Linked DNA regions of Homo sapiens: all the other regions are linked to region 1. The links come from fine-mapping of genetic effects on gene expression. A gene starts in region 1. Each other region holds a variant in brackets. All regions are shown on one strand. Distances are between the middles of the regions.

Region 1 (5,590 bases):
CCATTCTCAGAAGAGCCAGCTGGAGAGAGGCATTGCTTGGTTAATTGTAGTTTTACTTATATCTTTCCACCACTTAGTAAATGAGAAACTTTTTTTTTTCAAATTCTTTCACAAAAGCTTTGGGAAGCCTAGCTTTGTTGACTATAAATATGGTACTTCACATTTCCAAATAGCTTCATAGTCAGCATTTCACAATATGCTATGCGGTCACTCAGTTTTTCACAGTTTTGAAAGTGAGAAAACTGACATAGAGGTTAGATGATTAGTTTTAGTTAATTGGGAATCCCAAATCTTATGTGCCAACTCAGGGATCTTAAAAAAAATTCAAGTGCAAATGTCAGAATATAACTATCCATTTGACCTTCATGAAGCTGATCATGTACTAAGGCAACATTTTCATTTCCCTGGCAATCTTGGCACCTTCAACATAGTTTAATTGTTTACAACCTTTAGTGATAAAATTAAATTGGTGTTCTTTGTGTATCCTTTACGTATTTGGTGAATTTTCATTTATCCTTTCAAAGTCTTTTTCGACTCCTTTCACTCTTCAAAGCCTTGTCTGTTCCTCCCTCTTTGTCAGTTGACTGTGTTTTCTCAGCGTCCATCTCTGTACCTAGCCAGCTGCCCTGATAAGGCTGTGAGTAAGCTGAAGGCAGACCCTATCTCTCATTCATCCTGGCCCAGTGCCCAGCACAAACTAAGCACTCAATCAATTTAAAGTTTGTTGAACTAACTAGCTAGCTAACTGACTAAATAAATTAAGATTCAGGTGGTATAGAGAAATAAAGGATAAATTGGTAACTTCTAACAATGAACACCGAGTATTTATCAGGGTGTGGCAATATCATAAAAGGTGTAAGAAAGACACGGAGGTACCTTGGGTTATACCTTTCACCAGGACTAACCTGAAGCACTAGCGTGACAACTGTTGTGATACTGGGGATGATCTGAATATTCTTCCTCTCAGATTAAAGTGGATATTTTCTAACACAACAACATTTATTGGTAAAATATGACATTTTCCATAAAAAATTTAAAAGATGCTTAAGAAAGTTCTCTACAGTTTAGGACACATTTTGAGTATGAATAGAGTTACTCAAAATATCCTATCAATATACAGTGGGCTTCCATATTTCTTTCCCCTTTAATTATATGCCACTTCCATTTGTGTTTCATCAGTGAAAAAGTAATTTGGAGGCCTTCTCATTCATTATCCCGCAGCTGGAGTTTTCATTCGTTTGTACTGGGGGGGACCCTCGCCTTAACTGCACACACCTCCCTTTCCTCTGGGTCCCATCCTTGCCATCTGCCAGGGGCAAAGTTGAAGCAGCCCCTCCACACTACTGCTTAACCAGGTCTGACATCCTCATCCAATTCTACTGTCAGCGGCATTCTGCTCAGAGATCACTTTTGTTTTACCCCAAGCACAGGCAGTGACTGAATAAAAGGCAATGAAAGAAAGAAGAGTCCTGCCCAGAACCGCAGGTACGAGTCACAACAGGGCCCCGAGAGCAGCCTGTGGTAAGAAGTGTGGCTTCCAGGTACCCGCCTCCACACTCAGCCCAGCCTTATGTATGCAAGGAAAATCACACCCCAGGAAAGACCGACATTCTTTCTCCTGTTGAAACTCCAAGCCCAAACTGTTATTCTAAAGGAAGCGCATTGCCTTTCAAGGCCTTCCAGTTCTTCCTACTGCTTGGGAACTGATGCGCGTTCCTCCTCCTGACGCCGGCCTGGGATAAGAGGAGAGTAGGGGGCAGGTGGCGGAGAATATGCCCATGTTTCAGAAAGCCGGTCCACCCGGTGTGCCCCGTCTCACCAGATGTGCAGACAGCTGAGGGTGGCAAAGAGAATTCCCGCAATGAAGGCCAGGGGAATGGCCAGGAACACCGTCAGGAACTTGTACATTACGTATTTGCTGATTTCAAAGAGGGCATGGCTGCAGATCCACACTTTGTCAAAGGAGTGCGTAGTCACCGGCTCTGCGATCACATCCTCGAAGCCCAGCTGAGGAGACAGGACGCAGGGACCCCGAACTGTCAGCCAACCTGACGCCCCGGGAACCGGGAGCGCTTTGGGCGGGGGAAGCAGGAGGGAAGGACGTGCCAGGGCGTCCGCCTCTTCTCTTAGGGTCACGGTGGGCGCACAGGAACCTGGCTAAGAATTCCTGGCTACGCGGGCGGCCTGGTGACGGGTGGGACCGGGGAAGGGTGCGGGTCTCAGACCCTGCGGGGCCGACCCGGTAGCAATGGTGGGACGGGTTAGGGCGGGGCTGAGGGGCGCCCGCACCTCCCGGCCTCAGCGGGGACTTGGGCCCGCCCGCCCCGGGCTTCACCTTGAGATGCGAGTTGAGCCGGTGGGGATCCCGGTCCTGGTCCGAGTCCGCGAACTTCTCGGGGTCGGCGTACTCGAGGCCGCTGTGGTGGCTGTAGGAGTCGTCGTCCATGAAGAGCTGTACGTCCGCCTTCTCCGTCTCCAGCCCCATCGCAGCCTTGGTGCGCGGCCGCTGCAGCCCGGCTGGCGCGGTGCGGCTCCCGGTCCGCGCGGCCTCCCCTTCCCGTAGCGCCCGGCCCCGCCCCCCCTCGCCTCGCCTAGCCCTGCGAGGCCCGGGCGGCGGCCGCTTCCCGCTGTGGGCTCCAGCTCCCAGCCCGGCCGTCCCGAGCCCCGCCCCGGCGCCCCGCCGCCCCTCCCCGCCCACCTCCCCCGCCGGGGCGCAGGGAACCGTCCCCACGAGTCACAGCCCGGGCCCTGCAGTGGGCGGCGACGCCGGCAGCTGGGACGAGGAGGGCCTCCTGGTCACCCTTCTGGGGGCCCGTACTGTCATGCCTCAGAGCTGGCAAGTCGTCCCAGGGAAGACAACGGCCTTCCTGGAGGGAGGGAACCTTGTGGTTAGGCGCATGGGGTGCGAAGCAGGTATGTGCTCACCTCCGGCTGTGTTTGCCTTGCGTGCTGCGGCTCATGGTGCTGGTATTGAGCCTCTGGGAACCTCAGCTGCCTCGTTGGCAAAATGGGGGCTGTGGCATCTGTTTCAGGGGTGTCCGTGAGAATTAAATGTTAATTTCACATAAAATTCTAACACACATGGCCCATGGCCCGTAACACACAGTGATAAACTTCCAATCAACGTTGTTGCTGCTGTCGTGAGAGGTAAGGAGCCACAATGTACCTGAGTGCTAGGTACCTGAGTGCTAGGTGACCTGCAAGTGCATGTGGAGTTGGGTAGGCGAACGCCCTGGCCCTAGAGTTTGTGCCTTCAGATCTGAGGTGTGAGGGGAGATCTGATTTTTTTTTTTTTTTTTTTTTTACTTCCTAAACTACACCGTGTGTGTGTGTGTGTGTGTGTTTGTGTGTGTGTGGCAGAGTTTCGCTCTTGTTGCCCAGGCTGGAGTGCAATGGCACGATCTCGGCTCATCGCAACCTCTGCCTCCCGGGTTCAAGCGATTCTCCTGCCTCAGCCTCCCGAGTAGCTGGGATTACAGGCATGCACCACCACGCCTGGCTAATTTTGTATTTTTAGCAGAGACGGGGTTTCCCCATGTTGGTCAGGCTGGTTTCGAACTCCCAACCTCAGGTGATCCGCCCGCCTCGGCCTCCCAAAGTGCTGGGATTGCAGGCGTGAGCCACCGCGCCCGACCTCCACCTTTTAATTTTCTTGTGAACCAGACTGTCTTGAAAGATTCAGGAACTTCTAAGATGCAGTCACATCTGTGATTATCTTGCAGGCAGCACGGAAACAGAACCCTAACACAAAGCCACATTGCAATGGATGAATTAGCCTGCTGACCACTCACGCAAAGGTTTTCAGAAGGGAGGAGTTTGCATGTTCATAAAGGGCTTTAGGGTCTGGTAGACATATACGTGTGTTTGGGGAGGAAGGGCACTTAGTGAAAATTTGCCAAAAGCAAAACAATGAGAACTAGGCTTGAGGTGCAGGTTGCTCAGAGCTCAAAGTAGGCATGTAGTAGGTATTGCTGGATACAGTGTATTTGGAGCTTGTTGAACATATCAAATCCCCTTATGTGAACTGGATTTGAAGAATTGCTTCTTCCGAAAGAAAAAAGATCATTTTTGAAACAGTAAAAATTACAGAAATAAAAAAGAACAGGAACTGAATGAGAAAAATGTTTGGGGGTGGGAGGCAAAGTTCAATATTTCTAATAATTAAAAAGTTTCCCTGCTGCTACCTCAGTATATGAAGGGCAGTGTTGTAACCCTATAGGGTGTTACAGAGTTGACTCTCATGGCTATGGAGCCCCTCCTCTCCCAGACATCACCCTGCTTACCCATTCCCTTCTTTTTTACGTATCTTTCTCATTTTTATTTATGTTCAGTCAATTCCAAAGTGATGACTTAGACATTCTACTCATTGCATTTTCTCTGCTTCTCCACCTTGTCCATTCTCCTGATGAGAATTGGAACTCTTCTAGAATTGTTGCCCAACAACTGTTCATTAAAGTGAATAGAAGACATGAATCCTTATGGGAATCCATAATATCAACTGTGAGGAACAGAAAAAAAAAGGAGATAATTTACAGCCAAATACCATTTTATAATTATAATTCAAAATTATAATCCCAGATTTCAAGGTCTCACCCAAAGAAGAAAGTCACTGCCCTAGTACAAGAGTGGGCTTATGTAGTGGGTAAAAATCTGACATTAGCACTTCTTACCTTATAATTCTTGGTCCTCATTACATTTACATTTTCCATGGGATTATTAGGACATTTGAGAGTTATCACAAATAATTGATTTGTTTTCAGGAAGTGGCCAAGAGGACTCTTTAGACAACAGCTTCATTCGTAAAATGATAGGTATTTAAGAAAGGTGTCTCTAAATCCCATCTAAATGAGACCCATCTAGATTTGTTGTATGGAGCACAGAACTTGAAAGGAGAGGATTCATTTATTCATCCATTTGTAATTTTTTATTGAACAATCTTCTCTCCCTTGGGTCAGATCTGGTGAGGTTCTTATTTTGATGAAATTCTTATACATTTCAACATTTTAATACATAAGATTTTTTGAAGGAAGCTATAAAAATGATTTTGCTTATCCTATTGGCCAGTATTTAGATAAGGTTAGTGATATGGCTTGGATTTGTGTCCCTGCCCGAATCTCATGTGGAACTGTAATCCCCAGTGTTGGAGGTGGGGCTTGGTGGGAGGTAGAGATTAGATCATGGGGGCAGAGTTCTTAGGAATGGTTTAGCAACCACCCCCACTGCCACCCCTGCCCCCCGACCCCGCAGTTGGTACTGTATAGTGAGTGAGTTCTCATTAGATCTCGTCCTTCAAAAGTGTGTGGCACCTCCCCCTCACCTTTCTTTGGCTCCTTCTGTGGCCACGTGAGGTGATACTCCCTGTTTACCTTCCGCCATGATTGTAAGTTTCCTGAGGCCTCCCCAGAAGCTGAGCAGATGCCATCATAATGCTTCCTGTACAGCTAGTGGAACTGTGAGCCAACTAAACCTCTTTTCTTTATAGATTACCCAGTCTCAGGTATTTCTTTATAGCAGTGTGAGAACGGACTAATATAGTTAGCTACTGTTTTTCTCAAGAGGCTTAAACCAGAGTGATTCCCACAGCAATGGC
Region 2 (5,590 bases), 160 kb after region 1:
AAGCCCACAAAGTACTGAATGGGTGAGAAAAAGATCCACCAACTTATCCTAGTGAAATTTCAGAAACTTTTGAAGACTTTGTAAAGGATATGGAGAGAAAGATACTATTCATTTATATAATGAATAACATTACTAAAATTTGACTTTGTAAATGCCGTTTGTTTCCCAGCAATAATGAACCAACTATAGATGAGATTCTAAAGATTGATTAAACATATACAGGAACAAAATACAAATATGATCAGGGCCCCTGCATTAATCTGTAGGGCTGTGCACTGCTAAACTCCAGGAGGCACTGTTCTCCAAGGAGGCAGTAGTGCAGCTGCCCTGAATGTAAAACAATCCCACTGATGGGCTAGTGTTGGACAACATGCAGGGCCTAAATTGGAAACCAGAAGTAGAGGCTTAGTATACTACTGAACAATTAATTCAGGAACCTATACAAGAGCTAAAAGATTGTGTGAGCATGTGTGTTAGCATGTTTGTGTGTTCATACACACGTAAAATGAAACTCAGGAGAGAAAAGGATATCTTTTGTGTACTGAATATCTTGTACTGGGAGTGAGAAGATACTATCGAAACTTGAGTCATCAAAAAATAGAAGTATAAATGTATATCAGTCACAGTGGAGAGCAAAAAGGAAACCATCAGAACTAAAAACAGAAACTGGGAAATGGTATAAGTGACAGGGAGTAGGACAGGGAATGTAACTTTTAGTATCGTTTGAATTTTAAAAATATATGTATTATTTTGTAACAATAATAATAAAAGTAGATCAATCTGTTTTTTTAACCACATCATTACTGTACAATTACTCGGTTGCCCGGTGACTTTTCAGAGGAGCATATGCAAATCATATGCAGAGCAAACAGACTCCACATCCCTTCAGGACTATTTATGCCTCATGCTTTCTTTGACTGTAAAAAAGTTGAGGCATAGGGTGCTATTTTGTATTCTAATTGTGTGGACAAATTGTCAGTGGACTACATTTCCCCCGGGGTATGGAGCTCTCTTTGTCCCCCTTGGATATTGGCGAATGTATCTCAGATATAATCGACTACTAACACTTCAAGATCTTTATTACATATTGATTCCTTAAATACATAGATTTTATTTGAGCCTTACAATAATTCTGTGACAATTCAGAGCAGGTGTTACTATCTTCATTTTCTAGAAAAAGTTAAGCAAGGTTAAGGTGTCTCAAGTCATTGAGAAAGGGAAAGAGCCAGCACCGGTCTTCCTCTCCCTGCCCCATATGGTTTCTTAAGGTGATGGAGATTAAGTAATATTAATGCATACAGGCAGCTTTTAAAAAATGTGAAAAACACATTACCAAAGAGGAAAAAGCAGCCACTACAAACAGGAAATCCTTGTAAATGCCTCAGCTATAACCTTCCTCACCCTGAACTCTTGTTAAAATTGAACAATATGGTAGTTAAAAATGTGTCTCACAGAAAGGACTTTTGAAGGGAGCTGCAAAAGTAAAGAGAAACAAAAAGAGGAAGAAAAGTAAAAAGCTTTCCTTAAAAATGTGGAATTCCATTTAATTGCTGTGCTTGCCTGGGTCCTACGAAGCATCTTATGTTCTGAGTCCTATATTTCAAGTGCTTGCCTATGTCCTGTAAAGCGTATTCTGACTCAGAATAAAACAATGTAAAAAACAGCCTATGATTAATCTTTCCACTTGATTCTGACATTTATTCACCCTTTCTTCCTATGTGCAGAAGTGGAAGTGGGCATATGTGTGACAATGGGGGGAAAGCGGGATGAATGGCAGGGGTTAGAATAAGAAATGTAACTTATTTTTAATGTCATTTGAATTTGCTTAATATGTGCATATATGGAAGGGTTGATTAAACTATAGATAGGAAAGCATTGACCAAAGGGCTCTTTTCTAGAATGCCGTCTGACTCCTTTAAAGTTAAAATATTATTAGAGGACCATAAATTTAATCAGGAGTTTCTGGGTATATTCTGCTTTTCTTCTTCTATTAGAAATTCAAAGCTCTGCCTTCACAACACAAAACCCTTGACTTAAACATAAAAATTTTTAGATACCTCAGAGGCAGGACATTCCCTTTTTCTTGGCCCACCTGGCATCAGTGTGAATGTTTGGTGAACCTTGTCCAAATTCTGGCTCTTCCCATATTGATTCAGTTTCTATCTGCTAGAACAAGGTGACCTGCCAAGCTGTAGTGAACAAAATACGATGACTCACATGAAGTTTTTTCTTTTATTTAAACAAGTTAAGTGCAAAGACCATTGATAAGAGCAATTTTTAGCAACCTTGTTATCAGCTTATAGTGAGGCAGTCCCTCTTCCTTCCTCCCCTTTCCACCCACCCCATAGTCGTAAAACCCTCACCAGA[A/GAGAA]ACAATTTATAAAGCTTTTAAAGACAACTTTCAGGTTTGAGTGTTAGTATTTAAATGTGGAATTACTTTGAATTTGAGGCGCTTAGCCAAATTGTTACTAAAATATACTCTTTTTCTTGGCAATTACCACTGTAGACAATGTAGAGTGTTTATTTCATGTGTACCTAGCCATAAATGAATTCAAAAGTAATTTAACTTAAAGCTTTAACTAATTCTTTTAATCCCAATAACATAAAGCACTGTGTTTGGATCAGGAATCATCTTATATAACTGGCATTTAATAGGCATGACAAAATATATAATAAAGAAGTATATAACTTTTGTTGCATCTACATTAAATACAAATGAAAAATAATGAGGCTTATTTCTTCCATAGATCTCAGTGTCTTTGGAAAAAATGGACAATCAATAACTGCTGTAATATAACAGCACGATTCTATTATTTTCAGAGCTCTATAGTGAGATTAATAGTACTATTTTTAAAAATCAGAATGTGACTTTATTAAATCCCAGAAGAATGTACATTTAAGAAAAAGGGATAGAAATATCACCAAATATCTTTTCTGTATTGAATATAGCAGTCTGAATGTCACAGTCTTTAAACCTTTTTCTTCTTCCCTGAATTGCTATATCTGGTAATTTTGAAATATGAGTTAGAAACAATCAAGCTCATACCTAATGGATATCAATATTCCAGTTAATGTTTGTCCCAATGTTTTTCTCAAAGACTTAAGAAAAATGAAAATTCTATTTGACTTACGCTTATAGCAGAGATGGCTAACAACATAAAATTAATGCTATGTCTTTCTTAGTAGCTTTGTCTTGTGGCTGCCCAGCCAAAACCAACTTTTCTATACTTACTAGCAGTTAGGAGAGGCCATGTGACTAATTTCCACTAATAGAATGTGAGAGGTAGTGGCACCTGTTACTTCTGGACCCAGGTAATTAAACAGCTGGTGTGGTTTTTGCATCCTTTCTCTTGCCTCTTCCATCAGTTGGATGTTGATTTCCATGGCAACCTCTAAAGCCATGTTTTGGAGAACACATCACAGCTATCAACTTGGGTCTCTATATGACTGCATGAGACAGATGCATCGTGGCCCCAGCAGCAGACCATGAGCACCTGTGCTGGACTGTTGCATGAGCAAGAAATAAAATTCAATTGTATTAAGCCATTAGAATGTTGGGATTTATTTGTTAAAGTGCTAATGTTACCCTATTGTGCTATCCATTTTTTGTGCTATCCATTTTTCTTATGCTTGTATAAAACATTTATTAAGAGAAATCTTGTTAATCTCAACATTACTTGTTCATTGCAGAAAATGTTGACTATGTCTTATACTGACACAACAGCACAATTCTATTATTTTCCTATGAAGGTTTGAAATAATGAAATTATTATTTCAATAATAGAGGTTTGAAAATAAAATTAAAGCAAATCAAAATGACATTAACTGCCAAAGTTTTATTACATTTATTTTTAAGCACTGTGAAAAAATGTCAAGTTGTCAAGTTTCTGGTGTTTTATTCTTGTAATCCTAGTTAGAATATAGTTTTATCTTTGTCACACATGAGCATGACATTCTCTTATCTTCTCTTAAGCTCATGAGTGTGAATTAAGTAGCATATGTCACCATTCCCCAAAATCTTTTAGGATTACATTGTTCACATCTGACTCAGGAGAATAAACACATGAAATCACATTGAAGTCTTGTTGAAGTAGTCTACATGTTTGTTGATAAATAGAATTCCATGAAACATATCCTTTTAAAAGAGCTAGGCCCTTTAAAAAATAGAATTTTCATTTTTCTTAAGTCTTTGAGAAATACCTTGGGACAAACATTAACTGGAATAATGATATCAGTTAGGTAAGTAGATGGTTTCTAACTCATATTTCAAAATTACCAAGACATAGCAATTCGGGGAAGAAGAATTCAAGGAAGCTAGGCCCAGACAAGCTTCTGCTGTCTTCAGATCTATCTCAAACAATTTAATTAGTATCACTAAAAATATGGCCAATATTCTAGGCAATGCAGTTTACTTCTCAGTTTAACAACAGAGATTCCAAGTGATTAATAGTCAATAATATAGACCTTTTCATTCATTTCTTAATATCTAAGAGGGTTAGTGAAATATATTATTATTAGTATTTTCTTCCTTTAGTATTTTTCTCAGCAATATGTACTAATCAGATGGTGCTGGAACCTCCCCTTGGGCAAAATTTTGAGCTATACAGAGCATGAAGTTTCACAGTGATATCCATGTGTCTTTCACCTAGAAAGAGCTGGTTAAAAGAAAATGCAAAGGATCTGAGACTTTACCCTGCTTGCTAATTAACTTAATAGCCTACCACAGTTCCACAGAGGCTGGCAAGAAGACATGAGGCTCCTGATTGGGAGACAAGGACATTATCACGACACAGTAAGCAGCATGAACTTCATGTTTACATTGATTCTCACTTGCCTGGCTTCCCACAGGGTTGTCATGGAAGAGACCCAGAGGGATGCTGCACATGTGGTGGTGGTCTAACACAAAGAAAAGATAAATGCTGGAGGTGAGGAGTACCCCAATTACCTTGATTTAATCATTACACGTTGTATGCTGGTATCAGCATATCACATGCATCCCCAAAATTTGAACAACTATTATATATCCATAGTACTTAAAAATAAAAAATTAAAAAATGTAATATACTAGACAATGAGCTTTACAAGTGTTTTGATACTTTCCTCAGGTTTTTCTTCTCTTTGAGCATATGGCTTGAGATAGTTGAGAACATGAGACATACTAGCACCCATATTTCTTTTGTTCTCTTTTTAAACATGAACTCTAGACCCATTTCATTTTCCTCTACTTATATATCAGAATAAGTTACAGAGGAAATAAGATCTGAGAGCAGATGGGGAAGACAAAATTTAGGGTGCAGGAACAGAAGTAGGAACCTTGGAAAGCGGAAAGGACCCAACTACATCTGTAATCTCTTTTTTGATATTGGCTTTTTAATATCTGCCTGTAAGCCACACACACACACACACACACACACACACACACACACACACACACACACACACCATCTTGTCTATTATCTTACTTAGTAGACTCAATTATGTTTATATCAAGAATTAAGTGTATTCTGGCCGAGCACGGTGGCTCATGCCTGTAATCCCAGCACTTTGGGAGGCCAAGGCGAGTGGATCACCTGAGGACAGGAGTTTGAGACCAG
Region 3 (5,590 bases), 89 kb after region 1:
CTATGTTGAATAGGAGTGGTGAGAGAGGGCATCCCTGTCTTGTGCCAGTTTTCAAAGGGAATGCTTCCAGTTTTTGCCCATTCAGTATGATATTGGCTGTGGGTTTGTCATAGATAGCTCTTATTATTTTGAGATATGTCCCATCAATACCTAATTTATTGAGAGTTTTTGCATGAAGGGCTGTTGAATTTTGTCAAAGGCCTTTTCTGCATCTATTGAGATAATCATGTGGTGTTTGTCTTTGGTTCTGTTTATATGCTGGATTACATTGATTGATTTGCGTATATTGAACCAGCCTTGTATCCCAGGGATGAAGCCCACTTGATCATGGTGGATAAGCTTTTTGATGTGCTGCTGGATTCGGTTTGCCAGTATTTTATTGAGGATTTTTCCATCAATGTTCATCAAGGATATTGGTCTAAAATTCTCTTTTTTTGTTGTGTCTCTGCCTGGCTTTGGTATCAGGATGATGCTGGCCTCATAAAATGAGTTAGGGAGGATTCCCTCTTTTTCTATTGATTGGAATAGTTTCAGAAGGAATGGTACCAGTTCCTCCTTGTACCTCTGGTAGAATTCGGCTGTGAATCCATCTGGTCCTGGACTCTTTTTGGTTGGTAAGCTATTGATTATTGCCACAATTTCAGCTCCTGTTATTGGTCTATTCAGAGATTCAACTTCTTCCTGGTTTAGTCTTGGGAGAGTGTATATGTCGAGGAATTTATCCATTTCTTCTAGATTTTCTAGTTTATTTGCGTAGAGGTGTTTGTAGTATTCTCTGATGGTAGTTTGTATTTCTGTGGGATCGGTGGTGATATCCCCTTTATCATTTTTTATTGCATCTATTTGATTCTTCTCTCTTTTCTTCTTTATTAGTCTTGCTAGCGGTTTATCAGTTTTGCTGATCCTTTCAAAAAACCAGCTCCTGGATTCATTAATTTTTTGAAGGGTTTTTTGTGTCTCTATTTCCTTCAGTTCTGCTCTGATTTTAGTTATTTCTTGCCTTCTGCTAGCTTTTGAATGTGTTTGCTCTTGCTTTTCTAGTTTTTTTAATTGTGATGTTAGGGTGTCAATTTTGGATCTTTCCTGCTTTCTCTTGTGGGCATTTAGTGCTATAAATTTCCCTCTACACACTGCTTTGAATGCGTCCCAGAGATTCTGGTATGTTGTGTCTTTGTTCTCGTTGGTTTCAAAAAACATCTTTATTTCTGCCTTCATTTCGTTATGTACGCAGTAGTCATTCAGGAGCAAGTTGTTCAGTTTCCATGTAGTTGAGTGGTTTTGAGTGAGTTTCTTAATCCTGAGTTCTAGTTTGATTGCACTGTGGTCTGAGAGACAGTTTGTTATAATTTCTGTTCTTTTACATTTGCTGAGGAGAACTTTACTTCCAACTATGTGGTCAGTTTTGAAATAGGTGTGGTGTGGTGCTGAAAAAAATGTATATTCTGTTGATTTGGGGTGGAGAGTTCTGTAGATGTCTATTAGGTCCGCTTGGTGCAGAGCTGAGTTCAATTCCTGGGTATCCTTGTTGACTTTCTGTCTTGTTGATCTGTCTAATGTTGACAGTGGGGTGTTAAAGTCTCCCATTATTAATGTATGGGAGTCTAAGTCTCTTTGTAGGTCACTCAGGACTTGCTTTATGAATCTGGGTGCTCCTGTATTGGGTGCATATTTATTTAGGATAGTTAGCTCTTCTTGTTGATTTGATCCCTTTACCATTATGTAATGGCCTTCTTTGTCTCTTTTGATCTTTGTTGGTTTAAAGTCTGTTTTATCAGAGACTAGGATTGCAACCCCTGCCTTTTTTTGTTTTCCATTTGCTTGGTAGATCTTCCTCCATCCTTTTATTTTGAGACTATGTGTGTCTCTGCACGTGAGATGGGTTTCCTGAATATAGCACACTGATGGGTCTTGACTTTTTATCCAATTTGCCAGTCTGTGTCTTTTAATTGGAGCATTTAGTCCATTTACATTTAAAGTTAATACTGTTATGTGTGAATTTGATCCTGTGATTATGATGTTAGCTGGTTATTTTGCTCATTAGTTGATGCAGTTTCTTCCTAGTCTTGATGGTCTTTACATTTTGGCATGATTTTGCAGCGGCTGGTATTGGTTGTTCCTTTCCATGTTTAGCGCTTCCTTCAGGAGCTCTTTTAGGGCAGG[T/C]CTGGTGGTGACAAAATCTCTCAGCATTTGCTTGTCTGTAAAGTATTTTATTTCTCCTTCACTTATGAAGCTTAGTTTGGCTGGATATGAAATTCTGGGTTGAAAATTCTTTTCTTTAAGAATATGGAATATTGGCCCCCACTCTCTTCTGGCCTGTAGGGTTTCTGCCGAGAGATCCGCTGTTAGTCTGATGGGCTTCCCTTTGTGGGTAACCTGACCTCTCTCTGGCTGCCCTTAGCATTTTTTCCTTCATTTCAACTTTGGTGAATCTGACAATTATGTGTCTTGGAGTTGCTCTTCTCGAGGAGTATCTTTGTGGCGTTCTCTGTATTTCCTGAATCTGAATGTTGGCCTGCCTTGCTAGACTGGGGAAGTTCTCCTGGATAATATCCTGCAGAGTGTTTTCCAACTTGGTTCCATTCTCCCCATCACTTTCAGGTACACCAATCAGATGTAGATTTGGTCTTTTCACATAGTCCCATATTTCTTGGAGGCTTTGCTCATTTCTTTTTATTCTTTTTTCTCTAAACTTCCCTTCTCGCTTCATTTCATTCACTTCATCTTACATCACTGATGCCCTTTCTTCCAGTTGATCGCATTGGCTCCTGAGGCTTCTGCATTCTTCACGTAGTTCTGGAGCCTTGGTTTTCAGCTCCATCAGCTCCTTTAAGCACTTCTGTGTATTGGCTATTCTAGTTATATATTCTTCTGAACTTTTTTCAAAGTTTTCAACTTCTTTGCCTTTGGTTTGAATGTCCTCCCGTAGCTCAGAGTAATTTGATCGTCTGAAGCCTTCTTCTCTCAGCTCGTCAAAGTCATTCTCCATCCAGCTTTGTTCCATTGCTGGTGAGGAACTGCGTTCCTTTGGAGGGGGTGAGGCGCTCTGCTTTTTAGAGTTTCCAGTTTTTCTGCTCTGTTTTTCCCCATCTTTGTGGTTTTATCTACTTTTGGTCTTTGATGATGGTGATGTACAGATGGGTTTTTGGTGTGGATGTCCTTTCTGTTTGTTAGTTTTCCTTCTAACAGACAGGACCCTCAGTTGCAGGTCTGTTGGAGTACTGGGCTGTGTGAGGTGTCAGTCTGCCCCTGCTGGGGGGTGCCTCCCAGTTAGGCTGCTCATGGGTCAGGGGTCAGGGACCCACTTGAGGAGGCAGTCTGCCCGTTCTCAGATCTCCAGCTGCGTGCTGGGAGAACCACTGCTCTCTTCAAAGCTGTCAGACAGGGACATTTAAGTCTGCAGAGGTTACTGCTGTCTTTTTGTTTGTCTGTGCCCTGCCCCCAGAGGTGGAGCCTACAGAGGCAGGCAGGCCTCCTTGAGCTGTGGTGGGCTCCACCCAGTTCTAGCTTCCCGGCTGCTTTGTTTACCTAAGCAAGCCTGGGCAATGGCGGGCGCCCCTCCCCCAGCCTTGCTGCCTCCTTGCAGTTTGATCTCAGACTGCTGTGCTAGCAATCAGCGAGACTCCACGGGCGTAGGACCCTCCGAGCCATGTGCGGGATATAACCTCCTGGTGCGCCGTCTTTTAAGCTTGTCGGAAAAGTGCGGTATTCGGGTGGTAGTGACCCGATTTTCCAGGTGCCGTCTGTCACCCCTTTCTTTGACTAGGAAAGGGAACTCCCTGACCCCTTGTGCTTCCTGAGTGAGGCAATGCCTCGCCCTGCTTCGGCTGGCGCACGGTGCGCGCACCCACTGACCTGTGCCCACTGTCTGGCACTCCCTAGTGAGATGAACCCGGTACCTCAGATGGAAATGCAGAAATCACCCGTCTTCTGCGTCGCTCACGCTGGGAGCTGTAGAGCGGAGCTGTTTCTATTCGGCCATCTTGGCTCCTCCCTAGTGGACTGTCTTGCTTTGTCTGGTAGTTCTACAGAATTAAGCTTTATTATCCTAAAAAAGAAATTATCACATCTCCAGGAAAAGCTTCCTCTGGGGTATAAGCATTTTGCAAATCTAGGGAGTCCCTGTGTGAAGTATCACTTGCCTATTTATTGAGTGTTTCCCTAAATGACTAGTGTCATCTCCCAATGGTCATTAATATTCTTCTCCAAAGGTTCTATCTGTCAAAAATGGGGAAATGTGACCCAGTATAAATAGGATGAGGTATTTTCATTGGTACTTGTGGTCTACCCTGGCTTGCTGCTGCTCCCAAGGGGAGACAGAAGTTCTGTTCAACACAGTTGGAAAGTTTCTGGACTCCAAGTGTCAAACCAGGAGTGGAGACGCAGCAATTTTCAAAAGAAAACAAAACAAACAGTCGACACATCTATCTCCTTTTCTCTTCTAGTGCATATTCTATCACCTCCTCATTTAAATTGCACTCTCTCACTTTTGTTTGAACTAAAGCTTGTGTTCATCTTGAGCCAATAAAAACTACAAAAAGGAAACATCTGTATTGTTAAGTAACTAATGCTGCTATGATAACCCAGCAAAGTAACAATCTAATTAAAGATCATATGGCCAAGGTTTTAGCAGATAATCTTTTCAAGGCAGAATAAAATTTGTTACTATGTATAACTGTTACATTTACATACATGAAATTAGATTTGTATCTAATTTATTTTTGTATTACCTTATATTTTTTAATATTTTAAATATGTACTGTTAATATTCCATGACATTTGATCTTTGAAACAAATTGAAAGATGGGTATGTTACATAGACTTAAAGACATATAAATAATTAGTAAAATTGCTGACACAAGAGCCTAGCAAATTCCTTACAAAATTATCTATGTTAGAAAATATGGTTAAATTCTAATGAAGCGAGTTGTTTTGGAAATTTTCATTGACTTGCTGGTAGGGTTTTTAAATAATGCAGAAGCTTTCTGGAAGGCAATTTCAAAAACTTTAAGTGTTCATACCCTTTGACCAGAAATTCTACTTCCAAGAATATTTTCTAAGTAAATAATTAGGTATTTGCAGAAAGACTTAGCTACAAAGAGGACCTCTGAAGCATTGCTCATGTATTATTTAGAGTAAATAACAATAGTACTTGCCTTTATTAAAAAACCAGCATGGCACATGTATACATATGTAACTAACCTGCACAATGTGCACATGTACCCTAAAACTTAAAGTATAATAAAAAAAAAAGTAATCCAGAAATTTTATGACTCAACATTCAGAAATGTATATTTTTTGCTTACAGAAGTTCCACAATGGATGTTCCTGATGAGTGTGCATTCGTATAATTATTCAGAGACTCAAACTCCTACCATTTAATGTCTCCTCCATTTCTGGAGTCCCAGGAGTCCTCTTCAAGAGAGCCTCTGTCTTTGGCTGACCTTCATGAGAAAGTATATGGAGGTCACATGGGTGATATTTCATGCTGAGCCTGTAAGTTACACAGATCCCTCTGCTCACATTTCACGGGCCAGACAACGCATGGCCACTCCACAGTATGGGAAGCTGGGACCTGCACTCCAGTTCTGTG
Region 4 (5,590 bases), 51 kb after region 1:
ATCTTCCAAATTATATCATTTACATTTTTACCTAATAAACAGAATGTTATGTAATAATAATTATATAACATTATAGGTTCAGTATATCAATTTTAATATTATTACTTTCTGTAATAATATTTGTAATATTATTTGGTATATTAATAATGTAATATTATTACATTCTGTTCTGTAATAATAATTAATGCCTTCCTAATATGGCGTGAATTTAACTCTCTGAGGCCCGAGTGCTACCCAGGATTTGACAGGCTAGTGACATTTCTGTTGTTTTAGGGATTGATTATTATTTCCTTTTGGAACAAAGTTGAACTATGCAGAGATATGTTTTGTCCTGTGTGTGTGTGTGTGTGTGTGTGTGTGTGTGTGTGTGCATATTTCTGACTAATTCTAATTGGCAATAATTGACCAATTAACTCTATGAATCACTGGAACTTTTCTACCTTTTTGGATCTATGAAACCGTTTTATCTTAAATTAGTAGATGCTATATCGTGAAGATGCCGTGTTCTGGAAAATCAAGCTATTTTGCTTCTATAGTTCTTAAACATGTCCAAGGGATATTACCAATCACAGAAGCACAGAACTATCCAGAGCATTTCTGTGCTGTAGAGATTTGCACTCAGAGGAGTGAAGGAAAAGATTTTAGAGGCCATGTGGTTGCCCATTGCCATCATTTGTGTTGCCCAAAGAAGGGAAAGGACTGTGAAATAGAATTGCCAGTGGAAACTCTCTCTGGTCTTGTCAGCAAGCTTTTTACGAAAAACACAGTCCATTCTTCCACTCCAGACCTTTTAACAGGATAACAATTGACCAACTGCCAGGATTTATTGGCCGGAATAGAAACAGACATCACCATGTCATAACACAGTCCTAAATAGGAACTTCTACATTCTTTCTATGCAGGTTCTGCATTTTTCAGGCATTTGCCTTACTTCCCCACCATGCGTATCAAACGTAAATTGATATGCTGAACCTACAGAGATGTTTGAAGGCTTTTATTTTTTCTTATATGCATTTAGAATTTTGCAAACATAATACATGCCCATTTAAAAAAATAAAATATGGAAAAATTTGTAATAACATTAGCTCCTTGCCCCATCTTCTCCTACATGTAATTCTGTTTCCCAGAGACAACAGTTTTTTTTTTCCCTAAGTGTTTCTGTCTCAAACTTCTTTCATACCTCAACTTCATAAATCTACATGCTATGTATACTATGCCACTATTTCTTAATTTTGCACTTTGGTGTAATTTATTGACTTTCTGATGTAATCGATGGAGATTTAGCAGTGTTATGTCCTCCACACCATTGCTACCCCCACCGTCACCCTCCAGCTTTGTTATAGCACTGTTCTAGCAGTACTTTATGACTTCTTGGCTATTTGTGTATCTACTGATAATAGACAGTATCTCTAGGCTTCTCAGTCCATAAAAGGACAATAGTGATTTAAACTAATTTAAACTCTTGTTTTAAACTTTCTTCCTTGTTTCCATTTCCTAATTTACATCACTTATACTTTCACGTATACACGTCAAGTTTAAAAGCATTTGCATTCTGTTCTACACCCATAATTAACACCTTTCTGATGTATACGTAGGTTGACTTTCAAGAGTTGAAAACGAACACATTCTGGGCTGTGACTTTTTTTCTGGATAACTTCACTAGTTATCCCACCTCATTCTACTTTTTGCCTCCTGTAACTTCATTTAAAACTCTTATTTGCTGATAGTCCATCTCCAGTTCTTTCTTTTTTGTGATTCTATGTTTTCTCTATATCTTTACTTTTGAAAAGATCTAGAGAAGAAAAGAGGATAAACAAATGTGCTCAGTCCACCATCTTGCACCACTCCTTTTGAATTTGATTTTCTTCCCGGTACATGTGCAACAGAAGAAATGTGTTGTACCAGTAATTATCTAGTTAGGCTTTCATGTTTTCAGTAATGTACTACTGAAACTATGTTATATACATATGCATATACATATACATACACATATACATATACATAATCATTTCATTTCTGCAGTTTAACATTTTATTACTGCTTTAAATTTAGGAAGGAAAGTGGTTCTAATTCAAAACTCTCTGAGATAGCAAATAGAGAAGGCAAACACATGGTTTGGGAAATTTGAAGAAGCATGTAAGAACTGACCATTGATTTTAATTCAGTCTTTTCACTCTGTTAACCTTAAAAATATTGAAAACAAAAGCACTTTCTTTTAAAGCATTGGCATGATATCTTGATTCCTTATTTTGTCTCCTTTTCCAATCACAGTTTACAATACACCTGGCAGGCAATACCCCATTTTGATATCTTCATCTGCACTGCAGGATAAGA[T/C]AGCAACATGCTTTCCTTTTGCCTCTGCCTTCTGTAAAGTCTGGTTTACAGTTTTAATAACTCCTTGGAACAAGTTACTGTACAACATAAACATATATTCCTGTTTATTCAGAGTGACGGTTTTGTTATTATTGTATTATAAAAACAATTGTGATTCTAAATAAAATATACCCGTAAATTAAAACTCAGGGATCAACTTAACTATAATATATACACAATTTAAGGTCCCCAAAATTTTATTTCACAAAATTCATCTAGCCTGAAATAGTTGCTTATAACTCAGGCAATGTCTGCATGATTCATTTTTTAAGTACATAAAATTTATATCTCCCTGTTTTCTTACTCATCTCTAGCAGGATGATCTTTTTGAATATTCTCATTATCCCTTTGTGAGCTCAGGGAGTGCCCTGATGCCCCAGCCGGCCTCACTGCTTTGTCCTGGACTGAAAATGGCCTTTGGAAAAGATAACTTCAAAAAAAGAGAGATAATGCAGCTTAATGGTGAAAGGGTTTGGCTTGGAGGCCAGGCATTGAGTGCCAGTCCTGGCTTAATACCTTTCTGGCTGGGTGACCTGGAACACTTGACTTATTCTCTCAAAGCTTGTGAAATGGGAATAATAATAATAATAATACTTACCTCATAGAGACATCAAGAGGCTAAAATAAAATAATGCATGGGAAAACAGCAAAATGTTGACATACTAAGTACACATTAATATTGTTTATTTTTATTCTTACTAATTTGACTTGTTAATGATTCAAAAGTATTAATCCTGTGTAAGCACACAGAAATACCTACATATGAACTTGTCCTTAAGTTTTTGAGGATCTAAAATGCATTCTGAGGGAGCTTTTCAGTATGAGGAACTTTTCCTTATTTCACTTTAGAGGTATGATTTGTATTTTAGGAATTGTTTGCACAGTATGCAGACAGAAATACTGAGCCCAACTTTTACTTTTTCTTCAAGTAGGACGTCAAGTTTGTATATAGTTTATTCATATCTAAATCCCTGTTTTTATTAAGTTGCCTTCAGTGTCTTGACATAAAGATTAGTTTCATAAAACTTGAGCTGTCTAGTTAAACCTGTTTAATGTTTACTTTGCATAGCAAGCAAATCCCTATATTTCTAAGAGGGAAGTTTGTGTGCCCCTAACTAGGCAAAGAAGAAAAGATGAGTTAGGGGTAGGGGAAATACTAAAGACTCGATTTTATTATTATTATTATATTAATTATTTAAAAAGAGTTTTAAAATTTTGATAGCTTTTGGGGAACAAGTGATTTTTGGTTACATGGATGAATTGTATAGTGGTGAAATCTGAGATTTTAGTGTACCTGCCACCTGAACAGTGTATGTGGTAATCAATATGTAATTTTCTTCCCTCGCCCTCCTCTTACCCTCCCTCTTCTGAGTCTCCAATGGCCATTATACCACTCTGTCTGCCTTTGCGTACCCATAACTTAAAGACTCGATTTTAGTCCTGACTCTTCTGCCAGCTTTCTTAAGTCAGTTCGTGAACTGACTTAAATCAATTCTTGTACACTTATCCTGTACTATGTTTCAGGAACTGAAGTAGAGAGACAAATAAAATCCCTTTCCTTAGAAAACACACACAGCTTGGTTTGGAAGGCTGGTAAGTACAATCCAGTGTCTGTGACAATACGTAAACAATGTGACAATACACACATCACCAAAAGGGGGTTTGGGACAGGATGCTTATGTCCTGGAGGAAGGGATATCCTACTATATATATAAGACACCTTGGCAGAGGTGGATGCAAGTTTAGTGGGGTCTGAAGCTTATACAAATTTTTTGTGTATGTGGGGAGAGAGGGAGTGGTTTAAAATAAAATGAAAAAAATTAAGTACATGGCTTTGGAAGAGAATGGTGGTGAAGTGCCCTGCTGTCTTAGCTTCCTTAGCTTCAGGGTAAATCCCCCATCATCTCCCAGGGGAAAAAGTAGAAAATGTTCTGGGAGTCAGAGTTTGAGAAAAAAACTGCCATCTAGGAACTTTCCAGTACAGCTAGCAGTACAGAGTGTCAGTGCTGAAGGGAGACGTCATCAGAGGGAGACGTAAGGAGGGACAGGATCTTGAAGGATCTAACATAACTAGGACTTAGACGATCTTTCCTCCAGAATTCTATCTGAATATTACAGGAAACAACTGAGGTATTTTTTCTCTCTTTTAAAGAAATTTAATTGTGGTAAAATACACATAATAGAACAGTTGCCATCTTAACCATTTTTAAATGTACAATTCAGTAGAGTTAAGTATATTCATATTGTTGTGCAACCAATCTCCAGAACTCCTTTCATCTTCCAAGACGAACTCTATACCCATTAAACAACTCCCCATTCACGTTTCCTCCCAGCCTCTGGAGACCACCATTCTGCTTTCTGTTTCTATAAATTGACTCCTTTAGGTACCTCATATAAGTGGAATCATAGAGTATTTTTGTCTATAAAGCCAACCTCTCCAAGCTGCCTGATCTCAATGCATTCCATATGAACATTATTAAATCTTTCATTATTTGTCCTATTCTAAATATAGTTGATGTAAAGAAATGACTGAGTACTGTTGATTTCCGTTCTATTCCAAATTTTAATTAGAAAGTGTTTGTGAGAGTTTAAACAGCATAGTTTGTTCCCAGAATTTTATCTCTTTTGTATCTTTTGCCCTAGTGACAAATATGCAAGACTTGTTTCATTTATGACCTTGTATGGTAGCCCCTTTGGTATGGATTAATTTGTTTAATGAGATGTTTAAGAAAGACAGCTGGTTAACAAATTATTTCCTCTCATGTATTTCCAAATTTGCGTTACTTAAAAGATGGCCTTGGAAAAAGGTCCTCATGAGTTTGAGATTTTTCTAGTGAATGCCAAAAGAAGTCTTGTTTATGGCCTGATTCTTCAAGGACACAGTATCTTTTTGTTTAGTATGCATCATTTTCAATATGATTTTCATGGCTGTAAAGGGGAAGCACATTATTTTCGTGTATTAATAGAGGCACCAAGATAGAAACTGAGAAAGGTGTGAGAACGTCTGTTATGTTTTCTAGCATTTCATAGTATGAAACCTTAAGACTCACATTATTAGTTAAGCCTTTGTATAATAACAGAAACTCACCTTTTGCCAAAATTATTTAATTATATATTGTTCATACCTTAATTATTTGATGAATGGATAAGGACGACTAGAGGCAATACCGTGAAATGGAATTTTGGGGGCATCTTGCTTACTCTTCGTGTGTCTTAC

The links. PIP is the estimated chance that this variant, and not a neighbour inherited with it, causes the effect.
Region 2: its variant is fine-mapped to the expression of CAV2 in whole blood (INTERVAL, PIP above 0.99).
Region 3: its variant is fine-mapped to the expression of CAV2 in whole blood (INTERVAL, PIP above 0.99).
Region 4: its variant is fine-mapped to the expression of CAV2 in lung (TOPMed, PIP 0.96).

Annotation. Positions count from the first base shown.
Region 1 is chr7:116,496,677-116,502,266 of GRCh38, reverse strand. CAV2 (caveolin 2) reads right to left here and starts at 2,529. Exons shown (of 3, transcript NM_001233.5): 1 at 2,336-2,529; 2 at 1,820-2,007. The coding sequence starts at 2,485. It overlaps CAV2-DT (CAV2 divergent transcript), which reads left to right and starts at 2,751. Exons shown (of 3, transcript NR_188012.1): 1 at 2,751-2,913. RefSeq lists silencers at 478-772, 2,557-2,646 and enhancers at 2,827-2,966, 3,013-3,514.
Region 2 is chr7:116,336,422-116,342,011 of GRCh38, reverse strand. It overlaps LOC105375463 (a long non-coding RNA gene), which reads right to left. Exons shown (of 7, transcript XR_001745336.2): 7 at 4,804-4,892. It overlaps LOC124900233 (a long non-coding RNA gene), which reads right to left and starts at 4,799. Exons shown (of 3, transcript XR_007060487.1): 1 at 4,718-4,799; 2 at 2,093-2,189. The variant A/GAGAA (reference allele first, on the strand shown) is at 2,368.
Region 3 is chr7:116,407,263-116,412,852 of GRCh38, reverse strand. No RefSeq gene overlaps it. Among named protein-coding and RNA genes, the nearest start is that of CAV2-DT, 89 kb to the left of the region's middle. The variant T/C (reference allele first, on the strand shown) is at 2,161.
Region 4 is chr7:116,445,412-116,451,001 of GRCh38, reverse strand. The region is part of intron 1 of CAV2-DT (CAV2 divergent transcript); the gene reads left to right. Among named protein-coding and RNA genes, the nearest start is that of CAV2-DT, 51 kb to the left of the region's middle. RefSeq lists a silencer at 2,241-2,568. The variant T/C (reference allele first, on the strand shown) is at 2,335.